Linked DNA regions of Homo sapiens. The protein of the gene in region 1 interacts with the protein of each later gene in a biochemical or structural test. Each region holds a gene or a part of one and is shown in the gene's direction. Other genes may lie near its edges.

Region 1 (15,159 bases):
CTGTGTTCATCTTCTTTTCCTCTTCTAGTGTTGCATTCTTTCCTTTACATATTGGAGACCATGTCTTTATTGAGGAAGATTGTGTGGTCAACGCAGCACAGATTGGTTCCTATGTTCATGTTGGGAAGAACTGTGTGATTGTGAGTATGATGACTTGGCTGGCAAAGCAGCTTCACTTTCCCTTCAGCTCCCATCCCTCACTTCGGTGGGACCCTGTTTCTGTGACTAAGCAGGGTAGCAGTGGTTTCCAGTCTTCCCAGAGTTGGATTTTTCTTGACAGATATGGAATTTTTTCAGCTGGGTGCGGTGGCTCATGCCTGTAATCCCAGCTTTTTGGGAGGTTGAAGTGGGCAGATCACTTGAGGTCAGGAGTTTGAGACCAGTCTGGCCAACATGGCAAAACCCTGTCTCTACAAAAATACAAAAATTAGCTGGGCATGGTGGCGCATGCCTGTAGTCCCAGCTACTCGGGAGGCTGAGGCAGGAAAATCACTTGAACCCAGGAGGCGGAGGTTGCAATGAGCCAAGATTGCACCACTGCTTTCCAGTCTGGGCAACAAAACGAGACACTGTCTTATAAATAAATAAATAAATAAATAAATAAATAAATAAAAAGATTTGGAATATTTTCTAGACATTAATACGGGCAAGCGTTTATCAAGTCTCCTCTATATGATGTTAAACTCTTTCCTTTGATGATTTCATTTAATCCTTACAACCATTCAGATGTGTTAGGTGTTATCCCTATTTGCAGATGAGAAGACTGAGGACCTTAAATATTAAGGGATTTGGGGCCAGGTGTGGTGACTGTAGCCTATAATCCCAGCACTTTGCGAGGCCAAGGCAGGAGGATCCCTTGAGCCCAGGAGTTCAAGACCAGCCTGGGCAACAAAGCAAGACCCTTTCTCTTAAAAAAAAAAAAAACCCAAAAGTTAAGGGATTTGATAGGGCTAGAAAGCAGTAGACCTGGGATTTAAACCCAGGCAATATGATTATTAGCCATGCTGCTATATGGCCTACTTATTGCCTTACTTCACGGAGCTTACAGTCTAATGGGAGTAAGGAAATCTGAAGGGTGAGTTGAAACTGGGGGAAGACAGGCATTTCAGGAAAGAGATTCACATGCGTAAGGAAGGGTTCAAGTCATCAAAGGGCATTTACATGTAATTCAGGGTGCAAGCGGGCCCCTTGCTCAGCAGAATCTGTAGGACCCTGGTCCATTGGAGCCTAGGAATAGGTTGATTTAACCCAACCAAGGCTTAACAAGGTTGGATTTCCTGTGATTTCTTAGATGATGAGCTTGATTTCAGTTGGGATTTATGAGAACCATGTTTAGGGAAAGTGTTTTCTGCATTTTAGATTTGTACTCCAGACTAGATTCTAGGAAAAGCCAAGACTCTGTTTCTTTAATGACCATTCCCGTTAATATGGAGCCAGCTCTCTGCCCTGGATAAGACTCAGACCCTGAAATATCAAAAAACTTGCAGAAACCAAACAGTTCACATTCCAGGAGCTATGAGGGTACAGCAAAGGTGGACAGAAAGTCTTTGGGACAAGGGGAAAGTTAGTAAAGTTCATCTCTCCCCTCACCCTAATTGCTTGACAAAAGCTAGCCTTCCAGCTGGGGGTTTCTGATATTTTCCTTAGCAAAGTGAAGATATCACCCCAGTAGCCTAGTCATATAACCCTGTCGTTTATCCTCAGAGCGAAATGTCTGAAAGGTTGAATCCAAATTCTATTCCCAGTGCTTAGGAAATTCTAATCCTATTGTCAGGTGCTCTTGTTTTTATGCCACTTTTTAATACATCACTTCATGATATAGTCATTGTTCCATATTGGCGGTACTCGCTGAGCCTTGACAAATACTCGATCTCAGGAGAGATTCTTTTAGAATTCTAGAATCTCAGCACTGGAAGTAACTCTTTTAGTCCAGCCGTCCCCATGACACATAGCTCCTTCCTATAACATCCCATGTGATAGTCTTAATTTCCGTTTGGATATGTGAAGATGTAGGTGTTCATCAGAATTGCTCAGATGCCTGAAGGAAAAGCTTAACAAGCAATATTTATAGGCACTGTTACTGTACTATGAGTTTTACATTTATTCTCTCTATTCTTGACAACCTCCCTGCAGATTTGGTTTTCCATCCTGTTTCATAGATGAGGAAACCAAGGCTCCAAGATGCTAACTTACTTGCACAGGATATATAGGTAGCTGTAGTATTAGCAGCACGGCTGCAGTTGTTAACTCCTTGGAAAGCTCTCTAGGGAAGAATAAAGAAGTAGTTTCAGGCCAGGCGCAGTGGCTCATGCCTGTAATCCCAGCACTTTGGGAGGCCGAGGCAGGAGGATCACTTGAGGCCAGGAGTTTAAGACCAGCCTGGCCAACATGGTGAAACCCCGTCTCTACTAAAAATACAAAAAAATTAACTGGGCATGGTAGCACATGCCTGTAATCCCAGCTACTTGGGAGGCTGAAACAGGAGAATCGCTTGAACCCAGGAGGTGGAGGTTGCAGTGAGCCGAGATCGCGCCACTGCACTCCAGCCTGGGCAACAGAGTGAGACTCTGTCCCCCGCCACCAAAAAAAAAAGAAGTTTCAGCTTTTACCTCCTCAGCTATTACCAGTACATTCATGCCTAAGAAATACCTACATTTTAAATGTTTAATTTGATTGATCAGTCTACCCAGACAGCTTCTGAAACCCAGTTAAGTATTATTTCTCTAAGTGGGCAAAATGGCCAACCAGTGGACAGAGCAGGTGCCTTCAGGCTGCATGGTGGCTGGTATACACAGTGAAAATATCCCATCAGCTAGTCTTCTTTTCCAGGGCCCTTTGTCTGTGGATCCCTCCATGGGACTATATCATGCCTTATGTAGCACATTGGGTGTCCTTTTACTCAGTGCCTCATGAACTTAGTCTGAGTTAGTAGGAGCTTAGTCATGACAGGAATTCTTAGGGTTTATGTTAATTTGAGGTCACCAGGGAAGATAGTTGCCCTATTTTTGAAATTGCCACTAGCAGGTAACCCACGGAAGATAACTTTACAAGGAAGAACGAAGAACTATAGTCATAATGTGCTTTTGAGCTAAAGATGTTGCTGAGTATTCTCATAGCTGTTATCCACCTAGCTGGAGAGAGATCAGCCACTTGGGAAATTCAGAGCCACTTAGGAAATTCACATGCTTTCATAAGAAGTTCATTTAGCAATCTACCTTTTCCTAGAAAAACATATGATTTAAGTGTTTAATAATGGGGAAAAATTTAAACACAAGCAAATCAATCATGTTCTTTGCTAAAATCTGAGGTCTGGACTGGTTAGCATTGTCCTGGTATTTGTAAAGATTTCCACATTCTCAGTCAGGTATATTTTCTGATTGTCTAGCCAGGATACCAGTGAACTAACAGGCCCTGATGTAAATGCAGTCAGAATGATCAAAACTTTCATTTCCTCAGCAAGGAGTCTAAGATACAGCTGTAAACTGTACACAGAAGCCCCATGAAACAGATGAGTCTCTCAGACCTTATTTCTTGCTCTCTGAATGCCGTGGATCATGGCAGAATTGAAAAGTGGTGACAGTGGTTAAAGTCAGGGATGAGGTTCAAACATCTACATGACTATCACTCACCAGTGGGAGAACAAATGAACTAATAGCTTCATATCCAAATGAATTTTTCAGGGTTTTTCCAGTTTGAATTGACAAAAGAGCAAACCAACCAACCAACCTTAAGCTGGTGGATGTGGAGTGGAATGGGTGGTGAATATAAACCAAGAGTACAGGAGTAGATCTTAATGTCACGGCCAAATGGCTCCAGGCATTCAGCCCATGTTGTAAGAATTAGTCTCCATCTCTGTGCTGCTTTCCTCTGGGAGGTTCACTCCCAGGCAGGTTCTTCCTTCATGGAAATAAGATGCCTATTCCAGTCTTCCAGCCTATCCTCTGGAAACCCCAGTGGGAAGTGCTGCTTTCCCCAGTAGTCCCAGCAAAAGCCCTGAGGTTGGGGTCCATCAGACTAATTGGGGTCATATGCTGACCTGTTATTGTTTCCAGGCTTGGGGTTTGGTGTGTGGGCTGGGGGGTGAAGCACATGGATGAGATGGGGATGGGAGGGTTACCGAGGAAAATACAGGTTCTGTTACCAGAAGAAAGGGGAATGGATGCTGGACAAGCAAAAGCACAAATGTCCACTAAATCAAAGGGAAAATTCAACAGAGCTCATGGAAGACTGAAATTCAGTCTGTAATGTCTGAGACAGTTTGTCCTGCCTCTAGCATACAGCCTTCCCCCCGAAATGTACACAAACACACACTCTCACAACCTTGCTGCCTCCTTCTCGTCAGGTACCACCTGAAGCAGGAAGTTGCAACCAACCCTCTTGTCACCGTCCCTGGCTATTACATGGTATCATGAATGGGGAAAATAGAAAGGAGCCTTTCACACAGTAGACTGATCCATTTCCTATTAACAAGATTTTAATTTCAGGGGCGCCGATGTGTGTTGAAAGACTGCTGCAAAATTCTTGACAACACAGTATTACCTCCAGAAACTGTGGTTCCACCATTCACTGTCTTCTCAGGCTGCCCAGGTAACCTTGGCTGTTGATTAATTTTATTTTAACTTCCTAAAACTCAGTTGTATTTTCCATCGCAAAAGTAATGCTTACGATTCCTATCTCTGGCAATATGTTGATAGAGCTAACTTAGAAATTCACCTGTACAAAGTACCTAGAAATGCTACCTAACATATAACAAGCATCTGTTTAAATGCATAATTGGGTTCACCAGAAAATAAGGAAATTATGAAGGGCCAAACACAAAGAGGAAACTAAGCCCAAGCTGTGAGATTGCACGGGTTAATGCTGTCTTCATAATAGAGTGATTTGAGGGGTGATACTCATGTCGGGATGGAAATAAAGCCTTGGATCCACACATGGCAGAGAGATCCTCAAATACTCTTAAAGGATTCCCTCTCAAGGAAAAGTCGATGTAAAACAAATCTGCTGCCAACACAGGGAATGTACAAGAAAGCATTTCTTGCCTGGCCTGGACTCTGGGTAGAAAAAGTCTGTCTAGAGAATTTTAGTACTGGGCTTACCCTCACATTGGTCATGGGTTTAATTTGTACATTCCACATGGCCCAGGAATTCCCAGACTGAAAAGTTAGCATAAACCATGGTCTAAGACCAGCAATACCCTGGGGATACCTGAGAGGGGCAAATATTAATACATTATCTCTGGACCTTGGCTGATAGAATGCTCACAAGTAAAGCCCATCAGGAGCCCGGAGTTCCAAATTATAAAGCTTGAGGAAACAAAAGTGATACGTACTTCTCTCAGAAAACTTGGAAAACACTGAAAAGCAGAAGGAAGGAGAAAACCTCACATTCCCTTAGCCCTACCCCAAGACAGTATCTTCTTCTCCATGTTGTTTTACACAGCTGAAATCATGTAGCATATACAGAGGCACGTCATAAATTCACAGATGGAAAATAATATGAACAGAGAGATTTGACAGTATATGATACCTACCACTGAGTGGTTTAATTGTTTTTCCAATTAAAAAATAAATCTCATCTCTCAGATCATTGAATCTGAGTTTCTAAGATGAACAAAATCATCACTCAGATTCTTCGGGGAGGCATTTGGCCATTCTACCGTGTCATGCATCTCTGCTTTTGCAGAGGAGGAAGGAGAGACTTTTGTTTAGTAATTTCTCCATATTGGGGTCCTGCTGTGAAAAAGTTTAGCTGTTCTTAGCAAGCACTGGACCAGAACAGCCTCAGCGATTATTTAAGTGATTGTCAGACATGCATCTGATTGAGGTGAGAAGGATATTGCCAGAGAAATATCTTAACTTCTTGTAACTTCTTCAAGCTCCTTAGAGCTGGGTCTTTCTTTCCCCAGGACTCTTCTCAGGGGAGCTCCCGGAGTGCACTCAGGAGCTGATGATTGACGTCACCAAGAGCTACTACCAGAAGTTTTTGCCCCTGACGCAAGTCTAGCATCTCTGCCTCATGTCTTGAATCTGCTTGAGCTCTAAGATGAACCTGGGGACAAAGTGAGCCAGTCAGCACCTACAAAGAGCTTTTGTGTCTTTGACATCTACCACCCTCCTCCTTTTAAAAAATTTCTTTAGAATTTCTCAATCTTCAAGGCTCTAAGTGCTTAAGAATTCACTAACAGACAGACCATCTGGAGGAGCTGTCTTCAAATGCTGTGCTTACACCTTATCTATGAACAGTCACTTTGTACCATTATCTGTGGAACACAGAATCATCTGTTCCCAACACTCCAGCCCCTTGGTCCTGTGGATGGCTGGATCCCGCCTGAAACGGACCTGCAGAGCAGCAGCACCCTTCCGGTGTGGAGGCTATGTAGCTGGTGCGCTGCTCACGGCCATTCACTGCCCATGCTGAGCGCCTCTCACACAGGTAATGCCCAGCTTTTCTGCTGCTAACACATTTGGCCAGTTGTTGCAGTTGCTCATCATCTTGGGAAAGGTGTTTGTGACTTTTCAGAGCCCAGATTCCTGTTGTCTATTAAAACTTGAAGGGAGGGGTGAATAGTGTTTCTCTCTTCTTCCCAAAATGACCTTAGCTGTCCTAGGATAGTTAGTAAAAGACTTTTTAGCATTTTGACCTAGGGCCTTTGGCTTTCACTAAAAGTGGGGACCTCAGTATCCCAGATTGTAATTTTGCCAAGTGTTAGATTTGAGTCTCTCATGTGGATGCATTAGTCAGGTGGTTACTCCTTGCTTCAAGGTACTTACCTTATTTCATTGAAGACACCGCATTTGTGAACTCTTGCTTCCTGGCCTAGAACCATTCAGCCTACCCTGTATTTGCCATAAACTCCACAATTCACACCAAAATGTCTGTACTTAGAGCTAATTCGCATATATACAGGAAGGGCTCTTAGAATCAGTTTGTGGGCACAGAGCCTCAGGAGTAAATGAAGTTACTAGGGCTGTTCTTACCATCTCCTTCTGGCCAAATAGCACAACATTTCCTCGTTCTGCTCTGACCTCTTAGCTTAGAAGGAAGATTCAGAAGTGAGGGGCTAAGAAGGTTGTCCTTGCCTAATGCTCTGATCTGTAAGTGAATAGGGCAGAACAGTTCAGCCTTGAGGTTAGAATTTAGCAGGAGCTATCCTGACTTAATATCCAGTTGTGGGGTTTGCAAAACAAAACAGCTGTATGTAATCATTGCCACTAGTTCCATCTAGAACTCCTTTCTAGTTTGTTATTTTTAAAATGTTTATACATAAAACCACCAAAATACATAGCTTCGACAAGATGGAAGTTTATTTCTCTCTCCCATAACAGTGCAGTGATAGTCAGCTGGTCCAGGCCAGGCAAGGGGCTGGTCCATGATGTCATCAGGCACCCAGGTTCCTACTGTCTTGCCATGTGGCCACAGTTAGCAACAAAGGAGGCTGTAAATTTAGTTTCTACTTGGGCAGCCAAAACTCTGAGGAAGGAGATTCTGCTAGTAAAAAGGAGTGGGGGAAGAATGGCCATTGGGAGACAACAAGCAGACTCAACCAGGCCTCTTTGTTGGCTTCCTTTCCTCCTGCTGCACATGAGCCTTCGCCGTGCATTTGGAGCCATGACAGCTGATAGCTCCAGACCTGCATCCTCCTAGCTTGGGGGCTCTGAATGAAAGGTTTCTTCCCTTCCAGTTCGAATTTGGAAACTCCCAAAGTTCTCAATGGTTTGTTGTGAGTTCCATGTCCTCTTGGATCAGTCACTGTGGCCATGCATGTTTGGCCACATGATTAATCCAGTCTGGGTCATGACCTTTTCTTCATCCAAAACAAGGTGATGGGAAGACAAAAACAATAGCTACTACAAACAATAGGAGTTTATAATTATGTGCTGATGTATTCGAAGATGTGTTGACAGTCGTGAGTGTGTATCCTAGGAAAGGCGAGCTGGACTCTGTCTCCATGGTGGCTCTCACCCCAGGGACCTAGGAACAGCCTGTCACCACACAATTACTTTTATAACCCTGGAGATGAAAATCTCCTTGTCCTCAAAATACTTCCAGAAGAACAACCAGATGGGAAGGACCTTGGTTGGGACTCTTTCCAGTTCACTTGGGGCAGAGGGAATTTAATGGCTCACGTAGCTGAAAAGGATGGGCTAGATTGGGCTTCAGGCTGCATCCCAGGACTCCAAACAGGGATCTGTCTCTTTGGCTCTCAGCTCTGCTTTCATTTGAGTTGGCTTTATTCTTGGGCTTCACAGTGTGGCCCCACAGCACCAGTTATTGATAAAAAGAGCTCCCCTTTGCTGACAGAACTGCTGGATTTGGTTCTCATTGGTCCAGACGAGGAAGGTATCCAGCCTCAAGTCATCATTGTGGCCAGGAAGATGGAATACACCAAATGGACAGGCCTGGCATGTACCCACAGAGACTGAGAGTTGGTGCTGGTGGTTGTGGTGGCAGATGATATTACCTGAAGAAGGGACGAATGGGTGCTGGGCAGGACAAAGCATCAGCTGTCCAGTTCAGGCCTCTCCTCTTTCCCTGGTGTCTTCATTTTCCTCCGTCTCCCTGCTGTCCCTTACCCTCTGCCCAATCTCTCATTACTCCTGGTCTTGGGAGTTGCCTTCTGAGGATACTCCACTGGGGGTACCTGAGCCTGGATTAGAGGGCAGGGGGAGGATATTGCCTAGCCAAAGTGGGTGTTCAATAAAGAACCATTTGGAGATGGTCTTCTGTCTGGAACTGCTTCCTTTTTGTTTTATTATTTTTCCCCAGATGAGCTGACTGGGCCATGGAACTGCATCCTTATGGTTCCCATAGCACCTTACCGAGGCGCCCTTATCAATAGAGTTTTAGTTATGTACCTGTGTTCTTGTCTGAACCCCTACTAACTGTGAGCTCCTGAGGAGTCAGGCCTGAGTCTGTGGGTCATCTAGCACATCCTTAATAGAATGATTGCCTGGATGTGACCACCCTCACCCCCAACCCTCACACACCCTGCCAGCATGCCTCAGACCTTACCCCAGCTCAAGATAAGTCTCAGATTGCAGGATACCTGCTGCAGGGAACAAAGGTGAATGATTGTCTTGTGAGCCTCCTGTTGACTGATTCTGTTTTACATGGCTGCACAGAGCCCTTGTGGTTATTTGGGGTTGGGGTGGTGGCTTCTGTATTAGTCACTTCTGCATGAACCATTTCACTCAGGATCTGAGGCCACAGTTCCTTTCTTAGTCACTGATACATCTGGCAGACTTGAAATTAATCAGACAAACATTGTTCATAGTTAACATATCCTTGGAAGTTTCTCAGCTATAAGGAAGAGGTCTTGGTGGCTAGGGAGGCCTTTCTCTGTATCCTGTTCTATCCAGTGAGAGCCTAGAGGGTGCTGCCCAGCCATATTCTGGCTAGCCTCAGCGGTTCTCCTGAAAAAAAATTGGCATCTGACAACCTGGATGGTGACTATAGGTAGTCAAATCCAGCTGGCTGGTCTCCTGGGGGTTAGCTTCCATGGAGCTGCAAGTCCCCTGAAATGATACTGGCAGTGTTGGGACAGCGTGTCCGAAGGCCTGGTTTTTTCAGAACTGGTCTCAGCAAAATGTCTCGCCAACTTCTACAGTTCCCATAAGTACATGATAACTGAAACACTTCTAGAGCCCCCCAGCAATGGGCTTGTGCTTTTAGTAGAATATGTGCTTGCTTCCATTTAGGGGTAAGAAGGTGGGCCCCTCACCATATGCTGCACAGAGAAGAGAGACACCATCACTCATTTATTCATTTAACAAGTGCTTTCCAAGCCACTACTAGGTGCCAAGCACTTCCTAGGTCCTGGGGATACAGTGGAGACTAAGATGGAGCCAGTTCTTTCTCATAGGGATCTCACAGCTTAGTGAGTGAGAAAGCCAAAGAGTCAAAATACAGAGAGGGTCTGAGGGGCCCATTTTGAGAGCCATCATAGTGGTGAGGAGTGTGAGTGCTAGAGTCAGGCTGATCAAATCCCAGCCTGCCATTGGCTAGCCTTGTGACTTTGAGCAAGTTATCTTACTTCGTGGAACCTCAGGTTTCTCATCCATAAAATGGGGAAGTTGGATAGGGTATTATGATGATTGAAATGCATTTATACATGTAAAGCATAAGTACTGGCTCAGGGTGAGCACTCAATAAACGGCAGTTTATTAGGCACTTTTATTAGGAAGTGATACACCTTGAGCAAAACCCCTTAGAGTATAAGGCATAGCATTCTTACATATTTTTAAAATTTAAAATAAAATTTAAAACATCTTGCCCTTTATAATCAGTCCGCCACAAACAAGAGATGGAGAAATCACCCTTCCTTGTTTTGTATCTATGGGGTGCAAACATTTAATCCTCCCAACTGTCAAAAAAGTGAGAGTTTCACAGCCTGTTTTACAGCAGAGGAAACTGATATTCAGAGAGGTTAAGTAAATTTGCCCAATGCCACACATCTAATAAATGGCTGAGCTGGAATCAAGGCCAGCTCTTACTTGGCTGCAAAATCCATGTTTTATGCAGCTCCTCCACTATCTTGGCCTCCAAGGCAGCTGGCTTTGAACACTACCCTTGCAGCCCAGTCAGCCAATCCCTTGCTCTCCTGAAGCTTTTGCTGGTGGGCCAGCCCCACCTGCTTTCCTTGTGCACTCTGACTTGGACCCTGAAGTGAGAAGAGTTGGCACAGGACATCTTACTTCCCTGAAAACAGTACCTGGACTTTTCTGTATCTTCACATCCATTGGGCATTGGGCAAATGGGTCATGCAGATGAAAACCATCCAAGATAAGAGACATGGGAGTGAAATTCACACCCACTCTGGCTTTCATACCATGGGTCTGAACATTAGCCCATGGTGTTTCTTGGCCATACTGACCTGTGCCATTTCAGCTGCATTCATCTCAGTTGGTGTTGTCTGCTGGCTGCTCTTTCTGATTTCCCACAGGAGCAGTAAGAACCTGAGGAAGAGTAGGGTCAGAGGAGTCTGGGAGAATGAGGAAATATGAGAGCCCCAGGAACTGAAAAGGCCTGTGAGAGACTCTGAGCTTCCTGGGAACAGGTATAGGTTCTTTTTATTTCAATAATAACAGAAACAACTGTCAAAACCATGTGCCTGTACTATTTGGAGTGCTGTCCTTGCAGAATCTCATTATAAGAACCTTAGGAAATAGGCACATCATCTCCTGGATAGAATCCTAGGAAATGGGCACTATAATGGGCACTTTATCCCATTTTATAAACATGGAAATTGAGGCACAGAGAGATTAAGTACTTTCCCAAGGTCATACAGCTAGTGATGGAGGAGCTAGCATTTGAACCCGGAGTTTTTAGTCTATTGAGTTTAACCGACAGATCATACTGTGTTTTGGTAGGGAGGGAGGGAGGAAGCAAGCAAGTGAACAAATGAGTCTGGGATTTAGGACTTGCCAGACAAACAAGGCCCAAGAGGCAAGTGTGCAGGTGGGTGTAGTTGGGAGTCAGCAGAGTTGGGTTGGAATTCAAGCTTTGCCACCTGCTGGCTATAAACCTTGGTTGGGTAAGTAACCCAAGGTAAATGAGATCATCTCTGTAAAACTCTTAGCCTTGTGCCTGGCACATAGTAAATGCTTAATAAGGGTTCACTGTTAGTATTACTGTTACTGATAACATACAAATAGATTGTATTAATGGACCATAATTGCAACTGTATAAAACAAATTCCATGTTTGGCCAGGCGCAGTGGCTCAAGCCTGTAATCCCATCACTTCGGGAGGCCGAGGTGGGCAGATCACGAGGTCAGGAGATCAAGACCATCCTGGCTAACACAGTGAAACCCCATCTCTACTAAAAATACAAAAAAATTAGCCAGGCATGGTGGCGGGTGCCTGTATTCCCAGCTACTTGGGAGGCTGAGGCAGGAGAATGGCGCGAACCCAGGGGGCGGAGCTTGCAGTGAGCTGTAATTGTGCCACTGCACTCCAGCCTGGGCGACAGAGCGAGACTCCGTCTCAAAAAAAAAAAAAAAAACCACAACAACAACAACAAAAATTCCATGTTGACAAGGATGGGAATATGAGAACATGGAAACAGCTATGAAAAGACATAAGAGAATTAGGAGGATTTTCTTTAATATATCATTTTTTAAAAAAAAACTTGCTTGTATTTGTTTATTTTTTAAATAGAGACAGGGTTTTACCATGTTGCCCAGACTAGTCTTGAACTCCTGGGCTCAAGCGATCTTGGCCTCCCTAAGTGCTGGGATTACAGTCATGAGCCACTGTGCCCCGCCATTTTTTAATAAACCTTTCTAATGGAACAAGTAAAACACATGCAGTGGATGCTCAGCAGGCCTTGAGTGTGTGAATGAAAAATATTTGAACTTGTTTTTACTGGTTGATTTCATTGCTTAAAAAACATACCTTAGCTGGACGCAGTGGCGTGCGCCTGTAGTCCCAGCTACTCATCTCTTAAAAAAAAAGTTTTATGCTTGTTAATTTCATAAATGCTAGAGGGATCACCCTAATCAAATAAAGCTACTCAAAAATAAAATATGAAAGGTGTTAGTGGGATACAGCTTTCTAGTTTTTTGCCACTAGTGGATAGGTTGGAATTTAAATTCTTCGGATATTGGAACCAGAACAGGCTGTAACTGATTATTTTTGCTGTGATTCGTGCTTACTGGAGCCTCGGGAAAGAGGGAGACAACATGTAAAGAGAAGCAATCTGTTTGGAAAATGAAAATACAGTTAAATTGCTAATGAACCCTTGTCAAAATCAAATGTCTCCCCTTAGAGGCTGATGATTGTCTAGTCTAATATGCATTTTTTTTGAGTGGGTCAATTGGACTCTAAGACCAACAAGATAAAAAGGCAGCCTTGCATGTCACTTGGACCACAGCTGTCTGGCCATGCAGCATGCCTTCACTGCTGCTGAAGAAAAGCAGCTGCTTGTTGAGAATCTCAAATTCTCAGATCCTAATTGCCTGGCCCTGACTCTAAGCTGAAACCTGCTACTGTCTGCCTTGAGCTGTTTTAGCCTCAACACGAGCTATGCTGAACTGAAAGCAGGCACAGGCTCAATGACCAGGACTCAGACGTTGGGGCCGTTGGAGATTAAGGACCCCCTCCGTGGAGCGCTAAACTATGAAAACGTCCTGGAACCTGGCTGAAAAGGGCTTATTCTCTAATGGGACCATCTAAGATCAAGCTGCTGATAGGCTCTTTGTCTCTAATACAGAGGCTAATTGCATTCCTAACTTCTAATATTTGCCAAACGCTCCAAGCTGGGGAAGGGCACATCGCAAGGACTATGACCTCTCCTCCTGCTTTTGACAGACCAGACTCAAACCTTCTCTGGGGCTTCTCTCACTGCTGTTGACTTGTTGCATTCAGCTTTTGGGATTAGTTGCAGCTTGCAACAGTGGACTGACAGCCTGACTCTACTTCCCTCACTTTTCTCCCAGCACACACAGCTTAGTAAGGTAGGTGGATTATTAAAACGTAGCTGTCCCCAGAAAGGTATTAGGCTTTTCTAGTCTGCTCATTGAATAATCAGGACAAAAGGGGTAGAAGATTATGTAAACACATTTTGAAATTTTTAAAAATTCAGGGTTTCATCCTTTATTAGTTTGCTAAGGATACCATAACAAAGTACCACAAACTGAGTGACTTACACAATAGAAACTTATTTTCCTGCAGTTCTGGAGGCTGAAAGTCCAGGACAAGGTGTCGACAGCTTTAGATTCTTCTGAGGCCTCTCTGCTTGGCTTGCAGATGGCTGCCTTCTTACTGTGTCCTTGTATGGTCCCTCTGTCTGGGTGTCTGTGTCCTAATCTTCTCTTTTAATAAGGATACCACTCAGGTTGGATTAGGGCCCATCCTAACAATCCCATTTTAACTTAGTTACCTCTTCAGGGCCTATCTTCAAATATACTCACATTTTGAGGTACAGGTAGATGGTTAGGGCTTCAGCATGAATTTTTGTGGGGACATAATTCAACCCTCCACACATAATTACCAATTTCTGAATGTCTTTCTGGTTAAGTTGCATAAAAACGTTTATCTACTTGAACTCTAGGATGATAGTTAAAAAAAAAAATGTTGGCCAGGCGCAGTGATGGATGCATATGATCCCAGCACTTTGGGAGGCCGAGGTGGGCAGATTGCTTGAGTTCAGGAGTTCAAGACCAGCCTGGCAACATGGTGAAATCCTGTGTCTACAAAAAATGCAAAAATTAGCTGGACATGATGGCATGTGCCTTTGGTTCCAGCTACTTAGGAGGCTGAGGTAGGAGGATGGCTTGAGCCCAGGAGGCGGAGGTTGCAGTGAGCCAAAATCGTGCCACCGCACTCTAGCCTGGGCAACAGAGCCAGACCATATCTCAAAAAAAAAAAAAAAAAAGTTTATCTACAAAAATGCTTTTGTGCCTCTTACATACAACCCTTCCAGAGGAAAGGCCTAGCTGAGAGTAAGAGATGGTTGAAAAAATGCAATGTTATGATTGCTGAACAGGGCACGACTGTTTTTGTAATATTGGAGAAAATAATTAAAGCCTGGCACCTGGGGAGGCTTGATCCCTGGAAGCCTCCTCTTGCTGAAGGAAAATTCCCAGTGCTGCCTTTCCATGTGCTGTGAGTGCTTTGAGTTCAGACTGACAACAGAGTGGGTCTAGCTTCTATGCTTTCCATGAAGATCTCCCACAAATGTCATCCATGCTCATGAGATGGATCAACTTGTATCCTGAACAAGCAAAACTGTTTGGGACTCACTGCCTTCAGGCAGTCCCTTGGAAGCCAAGGACTCTGGGAACTTTTCAGATGGGACTGGAAACACTTGGGCAGGAGTTCCCCTGGTAGGAGGTCTGTTCACCTGTACAGCCTAATGGATGTCCTGCTTGAGGTGCCCTAATATTGCAAATTCTTTGTTTACAGGGGTACCACCTGTGCCCCTGGGACTGTGCTTCTGTACATGACCACAACTCTCATGATGTCCCCTCAGCCCTGGAAAGCATTTGGGTTAGCTTCCGCTTACTGGTCAGAGTTATACTGTGCCTGAATTGATGCCTCAGGTCAGGTTGAAAAAAAAAAAAAAGGTTCAGACAGCAATTAAGGGCTGGGCACGGTGGCTCATGCCTGTAATCCCGGCACTTTGGGAGGCTGAGGTGGGCAGATCACCTGAGGTCAG
Region 2 (15,159 bases), on another chromosome or scaffold:
GCTGCCGAGGCCGCTTCGGCACAGACCCGCTTGAGTCAGCAGAAACTGCCCGGCTCAGGCAGGATCAAAATAACCTTCTTCCTATTCCAGCACTTGAGGGTTTTTCCGCCTTCTAGGGGAAAAACAAATCAAAAACCAAAAAAGAAAAAACAAAAAAACCCAACCTTAGAAAATGCGAATGGCAACATCCGCAGCCATCTGGAATGTGGGTTTTCTGAGGCCTTTTCACCAAGAGGAGGGTCCTGACACCCCCGTCCTGTTGAGCGTGGCGTGTGTTTGTGAGTCCTGGGATGGATGTGTGTGTGTGGGCACGTGTGGTGCGCTGTGTCTGTGTGTGTTTGTGTCTGTTGGGAAGTGTGTGTTGGGATGTTGACTTGGGTGTGGGACTGTTGAGGGGTGTGTGTTGGGGTGTTGATATGTGTGTAGGAGTGTTGGGTCGTGTGTTGGTGTTGACGTGTGTGTAGGAGTGTTGGAGTATGTAGTGTTGTTGACGTGTGTGTAGGAGTGTTGGGGTGTTGTGTGTGGAGGAGTGTTGGGGTGTTGTGTGTGTAGGAGTGTTAGGGGTACGTGTTGGGGTGTTATTTGTGTAGGAGTGTTGGGTCATGTGTTGGTGTTGATGTGTGTGTAGGAGTGTTGGAGTATGTAGTGTTGGGGTGTTGTGTGTGTAGGAGTGTTAGGGGTACGTGTTGGGGTGTTATTTGTGTAGGAGTGTTGGGTCATGTGTTGGTGTTGACGTGTGTGTAGGAGTGTTGGAGTATGTAGCGTTGTTGACGTGTGTGTAGGAGTGTTGGGGTGTTGTGTGTGTAGGAGTGTTGGGGTGTTTTGTGTGTAGGAGTGTTAGGGGTACGTGTTGGGGTGTTATTTGTGTAGGAGTGTTGGGTGTGTGTTGGTGTTGACGTGTACTTAGGAGCGTTGTGTGTGTAGGAGTGTTGGGGCATTTGTGTTGGTGTTGTGTGTGTAGGAGTGTTGGTGTGTTGACATATGTGTAGGAGTGTCAGGTGTGCATAGGTTTGTGTACACACGTTCACATGTAGCTCCTCTTTGTTTAATTCCACAAAGCTTCACTCCCAAACTCAGTGCCAACTTCCTCTCTCCGCACTCAGGGGTCCCCTTCTCCTCCCAACTGCTCCCTCCCTGGGCCCCTAAGAAGGGTCTGTGACCGTCTGCCCGAGCCTTTGCCCAGCGACAGGAGCCAGTGCGCAGGGCTCCCTTTCTGCCAGTCAGCTCACGCTGTGCATCTGCAGAACGGCTCCAGGAGGCTCTGAGAGCAGAGAGCAGGGCCTTCCTCCTGCCTGTCCCGTTACCTCCTTCCGGTCAGTCCCTACAGAGGGGGTGTCTGGGTCCCAGGACACCTTTGAGGTGCTCTCCCAGCCAGCAGTACCCCCTCCTCCGCCGTGAGAGCAGCTTCCCTGCACGTACCCCAGCCCCAGGCATCGCCTGTGACCTTGCCGGGAGAGTGGCGGGGGCTTTCCTGAGTCTGGGTTGCACTCTCGTCCCCCTAGGTGGGTGAAAAAGCTCAAAAGGGCTGAGCCCTGAGCACAGCGACCTGCAGGTGTCCAGGGTCTCACGTGTCCCTCTTTGTCTCCACAGCGGAGCTGGAGTTTGTTCAGATCATCATCATCGTGGTGGTGATGATGGTGATGGTGGTGGTGATCACGTGCCTGCTGAGCCACTACAAGCTGTCTGCACGGTCCTTCATCAGCCGGCACAGCCAGGGGCGGAGGAGAGAAGATGCCCTGTCCTCAGTAAGTGCCCCGCCATCCCATCTGTGGCCTGAGGGTGCGGCAGTGGGACGCCCCTTGTAAAAACTCAGACGGGATCCAATGGCAGCGTTTGCAGGAAACAGATTCAGGGCAGGAAGACAGGGGCTGGGGAGCCCACCTGACAGCAGCTTCCTCCCCTGAAATGGGAGGAAAGCACCCGCCAGGCGGGCCTCAGAGATGCTGGAGGAACGTGGGGAATGAAGAGCTGGGCTGGGAAGAGGCTTCGTGATCCACTCACGCACTCAGCTGACTCTCGAGCAGCCTCGGGTCGCAGGCTCTGTGCAGGGCCTGGGGAGAGGGCAGCACACAGGTCCTTGCTGTCATGGAGCTGACGTTCCAGGAGGGAGATGAGACGCCCAGTGGTGATAGCGCCATGCAGGAGATGCGACCACTGGGACCTGGGGGAGCCTCTGCGAGGAACCCTCGGCTAGGGAGGCAGGGCTGGGCTCACAAGCAGCGCAAGCTGACCCCCGTCTTGACCCACATCTCTCGAGGCTGAGTGGAGACAGACCTAGAGAGATGAGGCTGAAAGCAGGGAGGCACCTGGGGCAGGCAGCACAGGAAGGCATTCTGGGTCCACACAGAGGCCTGACACAACAGGATGGTGGAGACGAGGGGCCGGCATTTGGCTCTTACCCACCGGGGTAGTGGTGGGAAAGGTGCCTGCAGTCCTGCAGCCCTGACCCAGACGGAAGGGAGGTGGCGGCCCTGCCCTCGTGCCCGTGCTATGCTGACATCTGGTCATGTGGTCACAATGCCTTGGAGAGCCATAGAGGCAACAGGACACCAGGTCCCGGGGCCTAAGTTTAATCCCATCTCCACCAGTACTGGCCACGTGCCCTCAGACCTGTCCCTGATCTACAAAATGGGGCTTCAGATCCCCCATTTGTAAAATGGGCTGACAGTCACATCCACCTCCCCAGAGATTCAGGGCTTTAGCACAGAGCACGGGTCTGGTCATTACTGGCTATAAAAGCACTTCCATCCATCCATCCATCCACCTGACAGATCTCTACCCAGCACACACACGGGGTATGCAAAATTCCCCCTGCGTTTGGGAAGTGGCTGTGAGCCAGTCCCAGGGGGTGCTGCTGGTGAGTTGGATGGGCGCAGACAGGAGCAGGTGCACGGATGAAGGAAGCCGAGGGCCGTGGCCAGGAAGTTGGGGCGAGCTGCTCTTGAGGCCGTGCTGTGCAGGACCAGGTGAAGTGGGCGCGGGAGTGTGAGGAGGACAGAGCCCTGCAGGAGGGACCCCGCTCTCCATTACAGTCCTGGGTGTTGATCTCTCAGAGTTGTGAGCATTGGTGGGTGTTCTGGAAACCCCAAGAATTTCCCTTTCGAATCTCCACAAAGTCAGGGGCAAACAGGGCAGATCTGGGTCGGTGGGAACTTGCCCGCCTCTGACGGTGAACTCCCGGCTCCATGTCGGCCGCCTGAAGCCCGGCTGTTCGGTATCCTTCAGCAGGTGGACCAAAGGGCGGCACAGAGTTAATCTCTTAATGGCTTCCATCTCTGCACCCAGGATGTGTAACTCAACCACGTGGGGCAGGAAGCGGCTGTTTAAAGAGCAGGCTGGGAACTGTGGGGAGGAGGTGGCACGTGGCCAGCCCTGGGGCTGCGGCACGTCTCTGAGCCGGGGCTCACCAGGTGTGGGGAGGACTCACAGAACAGGCAGCACTGAGTGTGGCCTCCCCACTTCTGGGGACGCCTGGGGTTGGTGGTGGCGCCCAGAGTCCCTGGGCTGAGCCAAGTCAGCTGAGAAGCCTGTTGGCCACAGTCCCTAGCCGGAAGGCCTGTCCCTGGCAGGTCTGGACACCTCTGCTTGCATCAGGCCCCAGCCTCAGTGCGTCACCAGGTTGCCAGGGCAAGGAGCATCAGCCCTGGGACCTCTGATGGGAATGCCTGGCCCACAGACCCGGGGCCCACTGTGCGTCCCAGCACGCTGTCCGGAGGGCGTGCTGCAGACCTGCTGCTCTCAAGCCCCGACGTGTTTATTTGCTGTTGCTACCACTCCAGCAACAAGCACTGGTTACGTCTGCCCAGGGATGCCATCAGGGACTTCAGGGGTTCACCCCACTTTCCAGAGGAGAAACTGGGGATGAGAGAGGTGGAACATTTGCCGGAGGCCACACTGCTTGTCACTGCCGGTGTGAAGAGCCCACAGCCTATTCCGTCCTCCCTCAAGTGCTGGGGAGAGTGACGGTGCCTGGACATTCCAGAAGGCACCAGCCCTGGAGGGGCACTAACTCCAGGCTGGACTCACCTTGCCCCTCGGAGCCTCAGTGTGTGCATCTCCACAGTGGGTTGAAGCTAGGCCTGTGCGGCCCGTGGTCATGGGGAGGATGCAGTTAGTGGAGAGTGTACCGTACCCAGAGGCCGACTGCAGGGGCTTCACTGTTGTGGAGCAGGAGACGGCACCTGGGATCCTGCTGCCAGGAAGGGGTAGGATTCCGTCACACCTTCGGCCAATAGAAAGTCTCCTCCCACTGTCTACCCAGCCGCCTGCACAGCCGCCCGGGATGCCTGGCTGGGTAAACGTGGAGCCTCACTAGGCCTAAAGCAGAATGTGGCAGCTCCCCTGGGGACCCCCTGCCAGACAGGAGTCCCTGGGCCCCGCGGCCTTCCATAGAGATCCACATACAGCTCTTATCTGTCCCGGGCCCAGTCTACATCCCCCCAGCCCATCCATGCTCTGCCCCTGGCATGGCTATCCGACCATGGCCCCTTTTCAGGGTGACCCTGGGGGTCCCCTCTTGCCTGTATGGAGACAAGAGCTCGTGCCTCACCCACCTGCCTCACCATCTCAGGTAAGACCCTGAGCTCTGAGGTCTTTTCTCGGCCTTGTCACCTCCTTGTTGTGTGACACTGGGCAAGGATCTGCCCTCTGAGGGTGAGGCTCCAGTGCAGGCAAGCCCCTCGACCAGGGATGGCACTTCCACCCTGGCGCTGCTCCGAGGGTATTCGGGACATGATGCAGAACGTCACTGCAGTGACCGCCCAGCCACGGAGTGGCGCAGACTTCAGGTTTACCCAGAAAGGCAATCCCAGTCTTTGTGCCCAAGGCCTGCTCAGACTAGGAACTCAGGCCTTGGATGGGGTGACCCTTTGTCCTCTTTATCCCCCAATCAGTCCTCAGTGTGGGTCTCCTGCTCCCGAGAGAACCCAGCCCACCAAGGGCCCATTTCCCAGGGGCAGGGACAAGACTGTGGCCAGGCCAATGTGCGACAATCTGCCAGCAGCGGGAGCCAAAGACCTAGCGTCCACTCCCATGGCCTCAGGAGATACCGAATTCCCCCAGGCCCCTTGTGCTGGGCTGTGGGGGAATTCAGTATCTCCTGAGGACATGGGAGGTACCGAATTTTTTAGGAACATCTCTTTATTCTTTAGAAACATCTCTGAGTCCTCGAAGTTTGATAGAAGGCCATCCCGTCCCCTTGGATGTTCCTGGGGACTCCAGGGGAAGAATGGGCAGCTACGTTCTGGCCTCGTGGTGTTAAGACTCTGGAGGGGTCTGGGAGGAGCTGCCTGAGCGTCAGCTCACTGCGGCTGCCTGGTTTTGTCAATGAGGTCTTTTCTGAGTGTGAATGAAGTGTTTTCGAGTGCGTTTTGCCCATAGCTGCGCTTGGCTGTAGCAGCAGGGTTCAGTGGTATGACAGAGACCCGCCGGCCCACAAACCAGAAAATATTTTACTCTCTGGCTCTTTATGGAAACAGTTTTCAGACCCTTGGTCTAGAAGCATCTAAATGGGGAAGGCGCAGGTGGACTGGGTGCGCCCACTTCAAAGAAGAGGAGTCCACCCCGAGCCCTGGGAGTCTGGGAGTGGTTGGAGGCTGCTGGGAGCAGGGGGCTCGTCAGCAGTGGCTGTAGGATTGGAACCTGTCCTTGTCCTCCACCTGGGGTGACTGGCAGACATAGCCAGAGGCTGGGGAAGGTTCCAGACAATTCTGAAGCTGGGCCCACCTCCCCCGACTTCTCAAGCCACTTTGGAACCTAATTCCACAAAGATGACTTGCACGGGTCACCCAGCAACTTCCGCACTTAAGTAGCAACCTGAGCACTCCCTGACTGCATAGCACGCCGGCGCCTGGCACTGGGGAAACGGTAGCAGCTCCTGCAGGGCGAGTGAGACCCCTGAATAGGCCACCGGGGGCAGAGGGACAAAGGCTGTGGTGCAGGAGGGGACTGGAGGAGATGGGAGGAGGTGCCTGACCCGCCTGGGGGGCTAACGGAGAGCTCTGGGGTTAGCACACCTGGGCAGAGGCTTGAGGGGCCAGTCAAAGTTCTTCAGGAAAGGGAGGAAAGAGGGGCCATTGGTCCAGACCCAGGATGGGCTCAGATCCAAAGGCAAGACGTGAGAGTCTGTGTTCACTGGGCACCTTGCAGAACACACTGTATGGTGCATTGCAGGCGCTGTCATCAGCCCGCTATACAGATAGGAAAACCCGTTAAAGGAAACAGCTATACTACGGCCGTGGACATCTAGGGGGTATGGGCCTCGGTAAGGGGTTGGAACTTTCTCTCCTGGAGGCAGCGGGGGGCCCAGACGGTTTAAGCAGAGGAGTGGCAGGGTGTGGGGTGGGGGGCATGAGGGAGATGTTCCCACTTCTGTGAGGAGGAAGGGCCCTGGGGAAGGGCAAGAGTGGAGGAGACCCTGGGAGACCCCTCAAGGACCTCAAAGACCAGCGGCACTCGCAGCCTCTGGGAGATGGTGAGACACGCAGGCTCGCCAGCCCTCCTGCTACAGAATCTGCATTTTTGCAGGCTGCAGATGGACTGTCTGCACATGGAGGCCCTGGTTCCATAGGACTTTGCTGTCCACTAGGCACAGATGCTGGGGAGAGAGGTGGATAGAACTGTCTAATAGAAGGAGAAGTGAGAGGGGATCAAGGGTGGGTGGAACAAGGGTGGTGGGGAGAGGAGCTGTCAGGAATGATCCTGTGGATCTGGCTTTGCAACTTGAAGAATATCAGAGCCATTCGCTAAATCAGGAGACGAGGCAGTTAAGACCTCCTTAAGGGGTAGGAGCGGTCCTGACGGGACAGTTTTGAGGGGCCACAGAGCCTCCTAGTGGCCATATGGGAAATTACCACCCTCTGGCCGTTCCTACCCAGGCTGCAGGTGAGCGGTATCCTACCTGGGAACCCTCAAAAAACCTGCCCCAAGGGAACGTTTGAGGTGATGGACATACTCATTATCTTGATTGTGGTGAGAGGTTCTTGGTATAAATATATGCCCGAACCAAATTGTATGCTTTGAATATGTCCATTTATTTGCATATCAGTTATATTTCAATGAAGCTATAAAAGTAACAGACATCCCTTTCCCCGGGCCCAGGGCTCACCGTCATGGCATTTGGGGAAACTCAGAGGAACTGGTCCTGGCATGGGGTCTCATTTTCCTCAGAGCAGATGGCATAAGCTTCATGAAGTGGCAGCTGTGCCCCTGCACCCAGACCAGAGCTTGGCGCCACAGTGGAACCACACACCTCCTTTGCCAGAGGCTGAATCACTGTTTTATGGCAGAGCAGCCGCCTTGGGCACTTTCCTCAACTCTCCTGTTTTTCACCTGTGAACTGGGACATCAGTAATGATGGGCTCACTAGATCAAGGGAGAGAAAGACTGTAAAGAAATAAATGCATAGAAGCAATGATTAAGTTAGGACAGGTGCTGGAAAGGGAATCAACAGATGACAAGGTTCACGGGAGAGGCCCTTCAGATGCTGGTCTCCAAGGGTCTGCAGGGGACGCTGGAACTGAAAGTGGACAGCAGCGGGCCGTGCAGCCTGGCCTGCCGTGTAAAGGACCTGGGGCTCGGGCTGAGCTTGTTGAGGCCCCAGGGGGCTGGTCAGCATGGCTGGTGGGAGTGTGGAGGTGACACCCAGCACATTCACATGCTACCTGAGTGCCACGTGGGCTCCGGGTGGTTTTTACATTCAAATTCAGCAAGTGCTTGAGCAACTATGAGGCAAGTACTGTAATCTCAAGAACTGTAATTCAGGTACAGAAACTGCAGCGTTGAAATTAAGTAACTTGACGCAGGTCACACAGCCAGCAGGGGGCCCAGGCCCAGGGGAGTGGGGCCAGGGGTGAGGGGCTGAGGCCATGTTCAGCCTGGTGAGAAGCCACTGAGGCCCACGGGAAGCTACAGGCAGCTTTGAGAAGGGGGCCCCACAAGTGGGTGTATGTTTTGGAAAGTGTCAGGCTGGATTTTCAGGGGACAGCAGAGGGCACCTCAGGGATCAGTGAGGAGGTGATTGCGCTCACGTCCTGGAAAAGCGCCCAGGGCCAGGGGCTGGGGAAGCTGGTTCCGATGCAGAGAGGTGGGCGGGTTCAAGAGCTGATTCCAGGGTAAAGGCCTAAGAGTCGAATCTGGGTTGAGCCTTTGCTGTCCCTCCTGCCCACCCCACTGACCCTGCTTGTACGTTTCTTCCTGTGCAGGAAGGATGCCTGTGGCCCTCGGAGAGCACAGTGTCAGGCAACGGAATCCCAGAGGTGAGACCTCCCTCGGCCTCCCCTCCAACACCCCCATCCCACCCTGGGCTGCTCCCGCTGCGGCTGGAACAGTGTGGGCTGCTAAAGGCTCACCCCTCCGCCCTCCTCTGCAGTGCCCTTGCTGCTGGGATCCTCCTTGCCGGAGATCATCTGCTCCCTGCCCCTGAGGGAGCAGCCCAGCTCTCTGCTCTCTGCACACGGGAGCACGGACGCTGCCACTGTTTGGAGGAGGGCGGTGCAGCTCTGCAGTGCTGCCCCCCAGGCCAGGGCCCCCGCGGGATCAGGCTCTGGGCTCCCGCCCCCGCCAGCCCTGCTGCCCTCTCCCTTTCCCCAGAGAGCCAAGTCCCATGCAGCAGAACTCCAGTCTCAGGATCGCTTCTGGACAACCCACCTGAGACAGCCGCCCTCCCTCACTCCCGCTCTGCTTCCTCCAGCCGCAGGTCTACGCCCCGCCTCGGCCCACCGACCGCCTGGCCGTGCCGCCCTTCGCCCAGCGGGAGCGCTTCCACCGCTTCCAGCCCACCTATCCGTACCTGCAGCACGAGATCGACCTGCCACCCACCATCTCGCTGTCAGACGGGGAGGAGCCCCCACCCTACCAGGGCCCCTGCACCCTCCAGCTTCGGGACCCCGAGCAGCAGCTGGAACTGAACCGGGAGTCGGTGCGCGCACCCCCAAACAGAACCATCTTCGACAGTGACCTGATGGATAGTGCCAGGCTGGGCGGCCCCTGCCCCCCCAGCAGTAACTCGGGCATCAGCGCCACGTGCTACGGCAGCGGCGGGCGCATGGAGGGGCCGCCGCCCACCTACAGCGAGGTCATCGGCCACTACCCGGGGTCCTCCTTCCAGCACCAGCAGAGCAGTGGGCCGCCCTCCTTGCTGGAGGGGACCCGGCTCCACCACACACACATCGCGCCCCTAGAGAGCGCAGCCATCTGGAGCAAAGAGAAGGATAAACAGAAAGGACACCCTCTCTAGGGTCCCCAGGGGGGCCGGGCTGGGGCTGCGTAGGTGAAAAGGCAGAACACTCCGCGCTTCTTAGAAGAGGAGTGAGAGGAAGGCGGGGGGCGCAGCAACGCATCGTGTGGCCCTCCCCTCCCACCTCCCTGTGTATAAATATTTACATGTGATGTCTGGTCTGAATGCACAAGCTAAGAGAGCTTGCAAAAAAAAAAAGAAAAAAGAAAAAAAAAAACCACGTTTCTTTGTTGAGCTGTGTCTTGAAGGCAAAAGAAAAAAAATTTCTACAGTAGTCTTTCTTGTTTCTAGTTGAGCTGCGTGCGTGAATGCTTATTTTCTTTTGTTTATGATAATTTCACTTAACTTTAAAGACATATTTGCACAAAACCTTTGTTTAAAGATCTGCAATATTATATATATAAATATATATAAGATAAGAGAAACTGTATGTGCGAGGGCAGGAGTATTTTTGTATTAGAAGAGGCCTATTAAAAAAAAAAGTTGTTTTCTGAACTAGAAGAGGAAAAAAATGGCAATTTTTGAGTGCCAAGTCAGAAAGTGTGTATTACCTTGTAAAGAAAAAAATTACAAAGCAGGGGTTTAGAGTTATTTATATAAATGTTGAGATTTTGCACTATTTTTTAATATAAATATGTCAGTGCTTGCTTGATGGAAACTTCTCTTGTGTCTGTTGAGACTTTAAGGGAGAAATGTCGGAATTTCAGAGTCGCCTGACGGCAGAGGGTGAGCCCCCGTGGAGTCTGCAGAGAGGCCTTGGCCAGGAGCGGCGGGCTTTCCCGAGGGGCCACTGTCCCTGCAGAGTGGATGCTTCTGCCTAGTGACAGGTTATCACCACGTTATATATTCCCTACCGAAGGAGACACCTTTTCCCCCCTGACCCAGAACAGCCTTTAAATCACAAGCAAAATAGGAAAGTTAACCACGGAGGCACCGAGTTCCAGGTAGTGGTTTTGCCTTTCCCAAAAATGAAAATAAACTGTTACCGAAGGAATTAGTTTTTCCTCTTCTTTTTTCCAACTGTGAAGGTCCCCGTGGGGTGGAGCATGGTGCCCCTCACAAGCCGCAGCGGCTGGTGCCCGGGCTACCAGGGACATGCCAGAGGGCTCGATGACTTGTCTCTGCAGGGCGCTTTGGTGGTTGTTCAGCTGGCTAAAGGTTCACCGGTGAAGGCAGGTGCGGTAACTGCCGCACTGGACCCTAGGAAGCCCCAGGTATTCGCAATCTGACCTCCTCCTGTCTGTTTCCCTTCACGGATCAATTCTCACTTAAGAGGCCAATAAACAACCCAACATGAAAAGGTGACAAGCCTGGGTTTCTCCCAGGATAGGTGAAAGGGTTAAAATGAGTAAAGCAGTTGAGCAAACACCAACCCGAGCTTCGGGCGCAGAATTCTTCACCTTCTCTTCCCCTTTCCATCTCCTTTCCCCGCGGAAACAACGCTTCCCTTCTGGTGTGTCTGTTGATCTGTGTTTTCATTTACATCTCTCTTAGACTCCGCTCTTGTTCTCCAGGTTTTCACCAGATAGATTTGGGGTTGGCGGGACCTGCTGGTGACGTGCAGGTGAAGGACAGGAAGGGGCATGTGAGCGTAAATAGAGGTGACCAGAGGAGAGCATGAGGGGTGGGGCTTTGGGACCCACCGGGGCCAGTGGCTGGAGCTTGACGTCTTTCCTCCCCATGGGGGTGGGAGGGCCCCCAGCTGGAAGAGCAGACTCCCAGCTGCTACCCCCTCCCTTCCCATGGGAGTGGCTTTCCATTTTGGGCAGAATGCTGACTAGTAGACTAACATAAAAGATATAAAAGGCAATAACTATTGTTTGTGAGCAACTTTTTTATAACTTCCAAAACAAAAACCTGAGCACAGTTTTGAAGTTCTAGCCACTCGAGCTCATGCATGTGAAACGTGTGCTTTACGAAGGTGGCAGCTGACAGACGTGGGCTCTGCATGCCGCCAGCCTAGTAGAAAGTTCTCGTTCATTGGCAACAGCAGAACCTGCCTCTCCGTGAAGTCGTCAGCCTAAAATTTGTTTCTCTCTTGAAGAGGATTCTTTGAAAAGGTCCTGCAGAGAAATCAGTACAGGTTATCCCGAAAGGTACAAGGACGCACTTGTAAAGATGATTAAAACGTATCTTTCCTTTATGTGACGCGTCTCTAGTGCCTTACTGAAGAAGCAGTGACACTCCCGTCGCTCGGTGAGGACGTTCCCGGACAGTGCCTCACTCACCTGGGACTGGTATCCCCTCCCAGGGTCCACCAAGGGCTCCTGCTTTTCAGACACCCCATCATCCTCGCGCGTCCTCACCCTGTCTCTACCAGGGAGGTGCCTAGCTTGGTGAGGTTACTCCTGCTCCTCCAACCTTTTTTTGCCAAGGTTTGTACACGACTCCCATCTAGGCTGAAAACCTAGAAGTGGACCTTGTGTGTGTGCATGGTGTCAGCCCAAAGCCAGGCTGAGACAGTCCTCATATCCTCTTGAGCCAAACTGTTTGGGTCTCGTTGCTTCATGGTATGGTCTGGATTTGTGGGAATGGCTTTGCGTGAGAAAGGGGAGGAGAGTGGTTGCTGCCCTCAGCCGGCTTGAGGACAGAGCCTGTCCCTCTCATGACAACTCAGTGTTGAAGCCCAGTGTCCTCAGCTTCATGTCCAGTGGATGGCAGAAGTTCATGGGGTAGTGGCCTCTCAAAGGCTGGGCGCATCCCAAGACAGCCAGCAGGTTGTCTCTGGAAACGACCAGAGTTAAGCTCTCGGCTTCTCTGCTGAGGGTGCACCCTTTCCTCTAGATGGTAGTTGTCACGTTATCTTTGAAAACTCTTGGACTGCTCCTGAGGAGGCCCTCTTTTCCAGTAGGAAGTTAGATGGGGGTTCTCAGAAGTGGCTGATTGGAAGGGGACAAGCTTCGTTTCAGGGGTCTGCCGTTCCATCCTGGTTCAGAGAAGGCCGAGCGTGGCTTTCTCTAGCCTTGTCACTGTCTCCCTGCCTGTCAATCACCACCTTTCCTCCAGAGGAGGAAAATTATCTCCCCTGCAAAGCCCGGTTCTACACAGATTTCACAAATTGTGCTAAGAACCGTCCGTGTTCTCAGAAAGCCCAGTGTTTTTGCAAAGAATGAAAAGGGACCCCATATGTAGCAAAAATCAGGGCTGGGGGAGAGCCGGGTTCATTCCCTGTCCTCATTGGTCGTCCCTATGAATTGTACGTTTCAGAGAAATTTTTTTTCCTATGTGCAACACGAAGCTTCCAGAACCATAAAATATCCCGTCGATAAGGAAAGAAAATGTCGTTGTTGTTGTTTTTCTGGAAACTGCTTGAAATCTTGCTGTACTATAGAGCTCAGAAGGACACAGCCCGTCCTCCCCTGCCTGCCTGATTCCATGGCTGTTGTGCTGATTCCAATGCTTTCACGTTGGTTCCTGGCGTGGGAACTGCTCTCCTTTGCAGCCCCATTTCCCAAGCTCTGTTCAAGTTAAACTTATGTAAGCTTTCCGTGGCATGCGGGGCGCGCACCCACGTCCCCGCTGCGTAAGACTCTGTATTTGGATGCCAATCCACAGGCCTGAAGAAACTGCTTGTTGTGTATCAGTAATCATTAGTGGCAATGATGACATTCTGAAAAGCTGCAATACTTATACAATAAATTTTACAATTCTTTGGAATGAGGCTTTTTCACTTCTTTGGCCAAATGTAGCTCTTCTCACTTCCCACCCCTTTCTACAATAACCCCGGGTGCATTCAAGGGAGGCGAAGCGATCCCTCGGAGCTGCTGGGCAACCTTGAACAGTTCGTTCAAACTTTCTGTTTTATTAGTTCAGGCAGCATTCAGGGAGCCCAGTGAAAACACTAGCTCAGGCAGGTTCTGGTAAAGGGGGTGGTCGTTGTTAAACAATTTTGCAAAACACTGCATACTTTTCCTCCGTCGGGAAATCATTATTCACCATAGCATGACGAAAGCTCTGATAAGGTCTGCAAGGAAAAAAGAAACTGTCTTAGGTAGGGTTCTTCCAGAAGTAACCCCAAGACGTGGCCTTGTGTGTAAGGGATTAGGACGTTTTAAGGATGTGCTCCCAGGGGGCTTCCGCTAAGGGAGTCAGGGAAGAGGATCAAGGAGGGGGAGAACCTGAGCAAGGGAGACACTTGTGGACAGAGTTCCAGCCTCAGCTTGATCCCAAGAGGACCTGTGGGGGCTCTGGACCCTGGAAAGGTAGAGTCCCAGACCCCTCTGGCTCCTGGTGCACAAGATGGAGGAGTGAGTCTCAGAAGCTGCAGAACTGTCCTCCCAGAAGCCAGCCACTAGCAATGCTCATGGAGACAGGGGGAGGGCTGTACAGACTCCCTAAAGGGTTCCAGTGGGACCTGGGGGCACCTGCAGCACCCACTACAGACCCTGTCTCATTTATTTTACTACACTTGGCCCTTGAACAACGAGGGGTTCAAGGCACGCTGAACCCCCTTGCTGTCAAAAATCCATGCGTTACTTGTAAATAAAATTTTTTTAGAGATGGGGATCTCGCCTTGTCACCTAGGCTGGAGTACAGTGGTATGATCATAGCTCACTGCAGCCTTGACCTCCCTCGAGGCTCACAAGGCCCTGCAGAGCCTTCCCATTCTCTCTGGCATCTCCCAGATGTTCCAGCAACATGCACCGGTTTCTCCCCCCACACACCCCATTTTCTCCCTGTGGCTATGCTCACTGCTGCCCCTTCTGCCTGGGATCCCCTTCTCTCAAAGCCCACATTGCCCTGACATCATTCAGACCCAGACCCAGTTCTGATAGCACCTTCTCCAGAAAGCCTCCCAGGATGCCCCCAGCTTCTCTGTGCCGGCTCTACTGAGGCAGTCACTGCACTGCTTGTGGCGTTCATGGCTCCTCCCCAAGGTCACTGCACTGCCTGAGGTCAGGGCCAGACTCACGTCCATTGTCCATGGGGGATAAACACGTGCTCCCAGGAGGGACCAGGCCTGCACTCCACAACTGCTTCCATTCTCACAACACCCCATTCTTCAGACATGGAAACCGAGGCAGAGAAGTCAGCCGGCCTTCTGTGTCACTGGCTTGGAAGAGTTGGGATGCTCTATCCCACCCACGCTGTTTCCTCATCCAATTTCCTCAAAATCTTCCCATGGATGGACAGTCAGATATGAGTAGACAGATGTGCACCATCCAGCTGCCTGTCCACCCCTGGCCTCCCCCACCCACCCCAGTGCAGCCAGTAGGAAACAGGGGAGGAGTGGGCACAGGAGCTGGCACACTTGTATCTGTCTGGGGGCTTCTGGCTGCAAGTAACAAAAAATAAGCAAACAGGGATTTCAGTGACTAGGAAATGCATTATTTCGATAGCAAGATGCTCTAAGGAGTGTCAGGGCCCTGCTGGGCTCCTGGGCTGTTTGTGTCGTCCCTCTAGACCAGGGGTCACCAAACATTGGCCCATACACCAAATCCCCAGCTGCCTGTTTTTGTAAATAAAGCTTTATTGGAAAACAGCCACACCAGTTTAGTTACAGGTCACCTATGGCTGCTTTTGTGCTGCAATGGTAGAGTTGAGTAATTGCCACAAAGGCCATACGATGTACAAAGCCTAAAATGTTTAGAATCTGACCCTTTGCCAAAGTTTTCTGATCTCTGCTGTATTCGTTTGTTTTCACACTGCTGATAAAGACATTCCAGAGACTGGGCAATTTACAAAAGAAAGAGGTTTATTAGACTTGCAGTTCCAGGTGGCTGGGGAGGCCTCACAATCATGGCAGAAGCTGAAAGGCACATCTCACATGGCAGCAGACAAGAGAAGAGAGCTTGTGCAGCAAAACTTCCATTTTTAAAACCATCAGATCTTGTAAGACTTATTCACTATCACAAGAACAGCATGGGAAAGACGCATCCCCGTGATTCAATTTCCTCCCACCAGATTCCTCCCATGACATGTAG

The links.
Region 2: the proteins of DCTN5 (region 1) and PMEPA1 form a complex in vitro, tested with the Homo sapiens proteins (one study listed by BioGRID).

What each region holds. Positions count from the first base shown.
Region 1 is NC_000016.10:23,661,142-23,676,300, forward strand, and holds part of DCTN5 (dynactin subunit 5), read left to right. Parts: intron 1-28; coding exon 29-140; intron 141-4,484; coding exon 4,485-4,587; intron 4,588-5,875; coding exon of another isoform or gene 5,876-5,883; exon of another isoform or gene 5,884-5,905; coding exon 5,906-6,003; 3' UTR 6,004-15,159. UniProt on the Homo sapiens protein: Part of the dynactin complex that activates the molecular motor dynein for ultra-processive transport along microtubules.
Region 2 is NC_000020.11:57,646,129-57,661,287, reverse strand, and holds the end of PMEPA1 (protein TMEPAI), read left to right. Parts: intron 1-1,590; coding exon 1,591-1,745; intron 1,746-8,201; coding exon 8,202-8,255; intron 8,256-8,689; coding exon 8,690-9,235; 3' UTR 9,236-12,892; downstream 12,893-15,159. UniProt on the Homo sapiens protein: Functions as a negative regulator of TGF-beta signaling and thereby probably plays a role in cell proliferation, differentiation, apoptosis, motility, extracellular matrix production and immunosuppression.